Regions from separate parts of the Homo sapiens genome. Here region 1 is linked to region 2. The links come from fine-mapping of genetic effects on gene expression. A gene starts in region 2. The other region holds a variant in brackets. All regions are shown on one strand. Distances are from middle to middle.

Region 1 (4,395 bases), 110 kb after region 2:
AAGTTTTTTTGTTCCGTTCATTTTAAAGACATGTTGGTTACAACTTAGTAAGCAGATCTTACCAACCACTAATACGTTCCAACTCAGAACTGCTCTAGAGCACAAATGTGTGTTATAAATGCTAATTAACAATTTAAGGGAAATTTATAGCCTTCCTTCTGAGAATTAGCTCACAATAGTATTCTATGAACTCAGAAAAAAAATTTAAAAAACTAACATAGTCTTGTTACCATGTATCCTGCCTAGACAGGGCATATTGTTTCAGTGTGCCTGTAAACCACTTTTCTTCCCAGACTCAACAGCTAAGGGGAAATGACTTGCAACTATGTAACAAGACCACATAACTGTATCGTACATTTTCTATGAAAGTCCTTTTTTATGTACATGACTTTATCTGATCTTCACCACAATCCTGTGAGGGTAGACAGGGAAATATCAGATCCACTTTACAGATGAAGTTAAGATTCAGAGAGGTTAAGTGGCTTTTCCAGTTATAACAGACCTAGTAAAAGGCAGAGATAGAATAAGAACCATGAACTTTAAGGTCGAGGGCTTTTTTCTCCATGCCACGTAGCCTCTGAGAGTATAATCTGAACTCAAATATTTTCACCACTTCATCCTCACTTATGTTAACTCAAATTTTTGTCATAGAATACAACAAAACACCTACTTCTAAACTTACTGTAATCACCTAATGGGTTCATCTTGCCTGCTGCACAGATAAAGCCATTCTCTGAGACAGTGGTGTTGCAGTAGAGGAGTTTAATCATCACAGGGCCAGATAAGTGGTAGGACAGGAGATAATTCTCAAATCTGCCTCTACGAGAGCTCAGAAGCTAGGGCTTTTAAGGATAATTTGGTGTGTAGCAGACTAAGAGAATGGGTGCTGCTGATTGGTTGGGGATGAAATCATAGGAGTGTCCAAACTGTCTCCAAGTGCTGAATCAATTCTGGGTGGGGACCAACAGTTGAGTCAGTTCCTTGATACGAATCATGGGTCTGGGTGGAGTTAGTTACCAGAATGCAGAAGTCTGAAAAGTATTTCAAAAACCAGTCTTAGGTTTTGACAATAGTGATGTCAACTGTAGAAGCAATTACAAATCTTATGACCTCTGACTTCATGACTCCTGAACAGTAAGAAATTATAGAAAAGCAAGCTAGGAAATAGTAACTGCTGGTAGTACTGCTTAACTACACCTACATTTTAATACTCAGGGATTATACAAAACAATAGTTGGTTATCATTTCACCATGCTTACATTTTAGCAGAATTCAGGCCTCTCCCACACGCCTAATCTTGTGTCTTTTTCATTAGTCTTACAAAGGTGGTTTCAGTCCCCAGATAATGAGGGGATCAGTTTTAGGGACAGACTATTACCATCCTTGCTTCAAAGTTAAACCATAAACTAAATTCCTCCCGGGGTTAGCTGAGCCTACACCCAGGAATGAGCGAGGACAGGCAGCCTGTGAGGCTAGAAGCAAGATGCAGTCAGCCATGCTGGACTTCTTGCACTGTCATAATATTTGCAAAGTTAGTTTTATTGTTATGCCAGGTTTTTACTAGTGAAAAAGGCCCCAAAACATGTATTTTTCTGGAAAGTATTGTTTGTCTCCCGTCTAAGGGAACACAAGCAATATGAAAAACCCTAAAAGCCAAAAAAATTAAAGGGAAGTCCAATTGTGTACAGAATTGGTGGATTCTTGGTCTCACTGACTTCAAGAATGAAGCCATAGACCCTTGCGGTGAGTGTTACAGTTCTTAAAGGCGGCGTGTCTGGAAGTTGTTCCTTCTGATGTTCCGATGTGTTCAGAGTTCTTTCTGGTGGGTTCGTTGTCTCGCTGGCTTCAAGAGTGAAGCTGCGGACCTTCACGATGAGTGTTACAGCTCTTAAGGCCGCACATCTGGAGTCGTTTGTTCCTCCCGCTGGGTTCATGGTCTTGCTGCCTTCATAAGTGAAGCTGCAGACCTTTGCAGTGAGTGTTACAGCTCATAAACGCAGTGTGGACCCAAATGGCGAGCAGCAGCAAGATTTAC[T/C]GCAAGGAGCAGCAAGATTTACTGCAAGGAGCGAAAAGACAAGGCTTCCACGCCACAGAAACGGACCTGAGCAAGTTGCCACTGCTAGCTCAGGCAGCCTGCTTTTATTCCCTTATCTGGCCCCACCCACATCCTGCTGATTGGTCCATTTTACAGAGAGCTGATTGGTCCGTTTTGACAGGGTGCTGATTTGTGCATTTATAATCCCTGAGCTAGACACAAAAGTTCTCCAAGTCCCCACTAGATTAGCTAGACACAGAGCACTGATTGGTGCATTTACAAACCTTGAGCTAGATACAGAGTGCTGATTGGTGTATTTACAATCCCTTAGCTAGACATAAAGATTCTCCAAGTCCCTACCAAACTCAGGAGCCCAGCTGGCTTCACCCAGTGGATCCTGCACAGGGCTGCAGGTGGAGCTGCCTGCCAGTCCTGCACTGTGCGCTGGCAGGTCTCAGCCCTTGGGTGGTCGATGGGACCAGGCGCCCTGGAGCAGTGGGCAGTGCTGGTCGGGGAGGCTCGGGTGGCACAGGAGCCCACGGCGGAGTGGGGAGGTTTAGGCATGGCGGGCTGCAGGTCCGGAGCCCTGCCCCATGGGGAGGTGGCTAAGGCCCAGCGAGAAATCGAGCGCAGCGCCAGTGGGCTGGCACTGCTGGGGGACCCTGTGCGTCCTCCACAGCTGCTGACCTGGGTGCTAAGCCCCTTACTGCCCGGGGTGGTGGGGCCAGCCGGCCGCTCCGAGTGCAGGGCCGCCGAGCCCACGCCCACCCAGAACTCGCGCTGGCCCGCAAGCACCGTGGGCAGCCCCGGTTCCCGCCCACGCCTCTCCCTCCACACCTCCCCGCAAGCTGAGGGAGCCCGCTCCGGCCTTGGCCAGCCCAGAAAAGGGCTCCCACAGTGCAGCGGCGGGCTGAAGGGCTGGCTCCTCAAGCACCGCCAGAGTGGGTGCCCAGGCAGAGGAGGAGCCCAGAGCGAGCGAGGGCTGCGAGGGCTGCCAGCACGCTGTCACCTCTCACGATGAGACGACACAAAATAGAATATATTGATACATTAGTAGTTTTAAGTTTATACTTTTGGGAAGAGGTTTACTTTTGTGAGAAATTAATAAAGATGAGCTTTGAAGCTTTTTAAGAGGATCTTAAGTCTTCATGATATTATTCAATGTGAAATGTGGAATGATGGTCTTCAGACACTTCTTCAGACCATGTCTTCACACACTTGGTACTTGGTGCTTTCCTAACGTGCTATTTTAGGTGATATTTAGGCAACAGTGCAAATTGATTTGTGTTTTTGTTTATTAATCGTCCTTGGAGTTCTTTAAATGGAGTCCATGTTAGAGTCCATAGATGTCAGTGTTCTGCAAAACTGGTAATTACCTGGCATCCAAGGCTCCAAGACATATCAGAAGTCCCATGCCCACCACAAACCAAGTACTTCAAGGGGGTAAATTCCTTACTTTATATTACTCTGCAATGTATTTTGTCATTCTTATAAATTCCACTGTCTTCCCCTTTTGTTGTCTCCTACAAAGTCTTCCTCCTATGTTATTTTATCTTTCAGTAAGTACTAGTTTCTCAAACATGTACCATAGTGTTACAGGCAGTTAGGCATGAGCAGGGCAGGAGACAGCTCTCCCCCGCCCACTAGGAATGTCAGGTGATGGTTCAGCAATTATCACATTGCCTCTCTAAAAGTGATAAATTGGCAGCTGGAGCCAGGGAGAGGCCATTTTCTGATGGTCCACAATTACTGCACTAAAGTGTTAATTGAATGCGGGCACCAGAGAGAAGCAACTTTCTGGGCATATGCATTAACAGACAAAATGGGCCGGGTGAAGTGGTTCACGTCTGTAATCCCAGCACTTTGGGAGGCCGAGGCAGGCAGATCACCTGAGGTCGCGAGTTTGAGACCAGCCTGACCAACATGGAGAAACCCCATCTCTACTAAAAATACAAAATTAGCTGGGTGTGGTGGCACATGCCTGTAATCCCAGCTACTTGGGAGGCTGAGGCAGGAGAAGAAGCTCTTGAACCCAGGAGGCGGAGGTTGCAGTGAGCCAAGATTGCGCCATTGCATTCCAGCCTGGGCAACAAGAGTGAAACTCGGTCTCAAAAAAAAAAAAAAAAAAAAGACAGTGGTAGAGTATGACCTTCTAGGGGCACTCCCCCAGAAAAGGGCAGAAAGCCTCAGATGGCCATGTGTACAACTTCCTAAACACACTGTGTGTGCTCAGTTCCCAAAGGTAAAGAGGCATTGTGCGTGTGGGCAGCCCACCCTAAGGGAAGAATTATGGGAAAGGGGCTAGCCTATAAAGTCCTAGGATCAAGGTTAAACATTGCGCTTATTCTTCAAGTCGCATG
Region 2 (4,395 bases):
TATGCAAATATATCCTGAATAGGGCAGAGCCAAGGAAATGAGGGGCTGGTGCCTCTGGGAGGCTGGGGCTTCCCTATGGGGAATGAAGAATGAAATAAACAAAGATGACTGGTGGGAGAAAAGAGGAGAAAACACTCAAAAGCAATAATGGGACAATAAAGAACTAGAAGGAACAAGAAAGGAAATGGGAAGAAAGAGATACAAATGACTATGGGTAATGGGGAGAAGTGAAGTGGCCACAGCAGCATGGATGTCAGAGAGAGATGTGAGTGATGGAGCCCAGGCGTGAGGAAGATGGATGATATGAAAGAGATCGTATGATAAGGAAAGGAAGGAGGTGTTGACCACGGGAAGACGGAATTTATAAAGCTAGACTGGAGATGGAGGAAAAGCAATGATGAGGGGATGTGAATGGTGCAGAGGAAGCAAGAGAGTAACTAGAATGGGGTGGGGAGGGGGTGGAGCACGATGGTGCTGAAAGATGATGGGGCTTGGGCTGGCTTCATGGGAGTGAAAACTGGTCAGTTGCACAGGGCCCCTTGCTCAGAAAGGCCCCATTCTTGGTTGAATGCTCTGCTGTTCTGTCTTAAAATTATTTGTAATTTTTGAAGAGACTTTGTGTTTTCACTTTGCATCAGGCCTTGCAAATCATGTAGCTGGTCCTGGCTGGAACAGACCGTGGGATGGGTGATGGGGGAAGGGCTCTGATGGGGCCATGAAGGATTTGGGTAGGGCCATAGTGGATGGGGACTGTGAATGGCAAGTAATGACAGGGACCCGAGGCTCTTGAGGTTATACGTGAGGGGGCTAAGGGGCAGGCAGGGAGTCACTGAAGGGTTGCAGAAATAACCCCTCATTGGAGAGGCTGAAAATGGGGTGTACTGTAATATGGGGGAGTGGTGGGGTGATACGAGATGTTAACACAGGAGTCAATGAACACACGGGGCAGAGGTGATGGGCAGAAGAGCCTTAATGAAGCTGTGTGACAGCAGGTGATCACATGTTAGGAAATCAGGGTGTGACAGGTGGACAAGGGCCATTGATTGGGATGACAGCAGGCATCTGTGAAGCTTTCTTCCCGGTTTCCCCTGTGAGATAAGACATCTCCAATATTTCTGTGTGAGCCTCTCTTATGGTATCACTCCATGACTAAAAATCTAGGGCTGGGTGCATGTCACGTGTGGATTTCAGAATTCATTAATTTTCTACCGCACTTAGCATAGCGCCGATGCCACAGTGGGGATAGTGGGGTGTCCACACAAATGAAGGAGAAACAGGAGGTAAAGAGGCCAGAGCCAACGGAGAAAGGCGCGGGAGTGAGTGAGGGTGCAGGGGAATAAGATGTTGATGGGGGGAAATATTGGAATCACCGTTTGTGACAATCGTCAGTAGGAGAGGGACAATGGGGAGGGGTCAAGGGAAAGGCGACAGAGGGGCGCTGACTCCTGACCTCAGCCATCCTGATGCTCTCTGGGGGCGGCCTCAGAGGCTGCTGTGGAGATCGCAGGAGCTGGGCCGGAGTCTGGGAAAGAAGCTAAAGGCGCGACGCGCTGTCTCTATCGCCCGCCCCGAGCGGAAACCCGCGCTCGGCGCGTCGGCCCGTCGCCTGGCAACGGACACGCCCTCTAGGGGCGCTAGCGGGAATTCGAAAGGGGAGGAGCTTCTGCGGCTGGCACCTGGGCAGGGTTCCTCAGAGAAATATGCAAATATATCCCAATGGGGCGGAGCCAAGGAAGTGAGGGGGCGGTGCCCCTGAGAGGCTGGGAGGAGTCCCACGGTGTGGGCAGATGGAGACACCCAGGAGAAAGAAGAGGGCGAATTGGAAGAGGCCACCCAGAAAGGACGGTGTGTGACACTAGGGAGCCAAGCATGGAGAGCCGAGGACTAACGCTTGGAAGGAAATGTGGACCAGAAGGTTCCGGATGAGGGAAGGACTGGCGGCTACACTCTGCCTTCCGAGACAACGAGGAATAATCTCACTTCAGTCAGTTCAACCCTTGTAAAACAGCTACTGTGTGCAAGACACGGAGGGAAAGCTGAAGTAGAGAAACCACAGACGCTGTCTTCAAAGGGTTTAATCTAATATTAGTGATGAGAAAAATAGGGTGCAGAGCTTAAGGCATCCTGGAAAAACGTATGTAGCGCCACATCGCGAAAATCTCTCTTCTGGGACCCCTCTCCCAAAAACGTTTCTTCGCCCTCTTCTCCCCCTTCTGCCTCCACTCTTTCTGGACTTCAGGTACAAATAGTTGAAATAATTATACTCCTTGGTTCATGAAATGTGTAAGACTCCTCTCTGGTTTTATTTTCCCCCTTTATCCCCATCCCTACTCCCAACCCCTATCCTCAACCCCATAGGCATTCATGCTGCTGTGCTTCCATATGTATTTTTGGGAAATGTACAAAATTTTTATCAGTGTATTTTTTAAAAATGTTTAAATAATGCTACTGGACTTTGGAGATTATCTTATTTTCTACTTTTTTCACTCAACATTCTTTTTAAGGATCTGTCCTCGTTGCGATTGGCAAGCATATAGTTCATTGCTTCTGAGTACTGCACAGCGTTTCATAAGGGGCATCTACCACACTTCACTTCCATTCCCCAGGTGTTAGGTAACAAGGCCGCCTCTAATTCTCCAATACATCAAGTAATACAGCCATGATCGTCTTTGTCCGTGGTCCCTTAAGGACCTCTGTGCAAATTCCTCTGAAATATATGCCAAGGAGTAAGATTGTTAAAGTTATAGGGATGCACAGGGACATTTGCTTATGCAGCTGCGTCCTGCACAAACACATCCAGCCATGGGGCAATGGAGGCTGAAAAACTGTCTCTACTCTCTTTCCCGTGCCATGTGCCCTACTGGAGAAAGGTGTGCACTTTTTATTCTCACAAAATCTCTGTACGCCAGCCAAGTCATGAACCTAGAAGGCTGTAACTATCTAGAGGGTGTGATATTTTCAAACTCATCTGGCCAGATGAACAGTTTTCCAAGAGCACAACGATGCCCAGTAGCCTAGTACAAGCCCTGGGTACTTACCAAGCACTTTAAGATTGTGTACCAGAGTTACTGCCCTACGCTGCACTCCAGTGTGGGGTTTCCATCCAACACTTCCATCCATCCCTTCCAGAAGGTGATAGGTCTTTTTTATTAAACACTCATAAAGTGTTTAGTAAATACCAGATACTATTCTAAGTGCTTTGCAAATATTGACTCATCTAATTAGCTAATTTTCTAATTTCTGTCAATATGATGAAAGTAGTGTAAGCTCATTTTTTGCTTTCATTTTCACTTCTCTAACTACTAGTGAATTTTTTGACCATTTCTTTATACATTCATAGGCTACTTGAGATTCCCTTCTGTGAACTGCCTTTTCAGTGTCTGTGTCTATTTTTCTATTGATCTTTTTTCTTTTTCTTTTGATTTACAGATATCTTTGAGAAGCCTGGACATCAATCTGCTTTAGAAGACTAGAAACTCTGCCTTTATGTCTTTAAGGGAACAATAGTCCTTAACTTTGATACTGTGGCTCTTTAGCTCTTTTTTTCCCTATATTTTTTATATAGTTTTTTGGTATTATTTAGACCTCCTTAACCCCACGGTCATAAAGGTATTCTCCCATCATTTTTTTCTATCCATTAGCTTCATAGTTTTACTTTTTTACATTCAGTTATCTAATCCATCTGGAGTTCTCCTTCCCATATGGTGTGAGATAGGGATCTAACTATATTTTTCTCCATGGGGTGAGCAAATTTTCCAACAACCCATGTCAAACAATCCATTCTTTCCAAATTGGTTTGGGGAAGTTTCCAAATAGACATGAGTATGTTCTGAGCTCTCTGGTTTGTTCATGTGTCAGTACCACAAGGTTTTGTCACTGTGGGTTTTTAGTTAGTCATCATGCTTGAAGGGCAAGTTCCCCATTCCAAATTCTTCTGTGTTAAGATTGCTTTGTCTATCCACGGGCCTTTATCCTCCCTTATAATGTTTAGAGTAAGTTTGTCAAGTTTATGAGAACTGTGTTGGGTTGATGAATAAATGCAAGGAAAACTGGCAACTGTGCAGTGACATCTCATTCATGACCTGACACTGTATATCTGGTGGACAAAAAGAGGGAAATGTGGCTGAGTCATAATGTGCATGGAGGTTGCTGGAGAGGTGGCAGATGAACTGGAGAGGCAGGCTGAACCACACTGTAAGCCAAGCTAATAGAAATGAGCTTGAAATGGGACAGGCAACCCAGCTCAGGCTGCTTTGTGTGTTCACAGGAAACCTGATTACACATTGGGACCATCGGTTTGTAGGATTGCCATGATCCAGAGAAACTCCATAACATTTCTGAAAGTATATAACAAAAATAAAGACCTAGAGGGCCCTGGTCACCCATACGTTGCAC

The links. PIP is the estimated chance that this variant, and not a neighbour inherited with it, causes the effect.
Region 1: its variant is the best candidate, but not a certain one, in a credible set for the expression of CFAP58-DT in whole blood (INTERVAL, PIP 0.59).

The regions. Positions count from the first base shown.
Region 1 is chr10:104,243,643-104,248,037 of GRCh38, reverse strand. No RefSeq gene overlaps it. Among named protein-coding and RNA genes, the nearest start is that of GSTO1, 9.1 kb to the left of the region's middle. The variant T/C (reference allele first, on the strand shown) is at 2,036.
Region 2 is chr10:104,350,962-104,355,356 of GRCh38, reverse strand. CFAP58-DT (CFAP58 divergent transcript) reads left to right here and starts at 1,782. Exons shown (of 2, transcript NR_108036.1): 1 at 1,782-2,239; 2 at 3,430-4,056. It overlaps CFAP58 (cilia and flagella associated protein 58), which reads right to left and starts at 1,524. Exons shown (of 18, transcript NM_001008723.2): 1 at 1,451-1,524. The coding sequence starts at 1,459. RefSeq lists enhancers at 1,795-1,854, 3,132-3,241, 3,262-3,311, 4,070-4,129.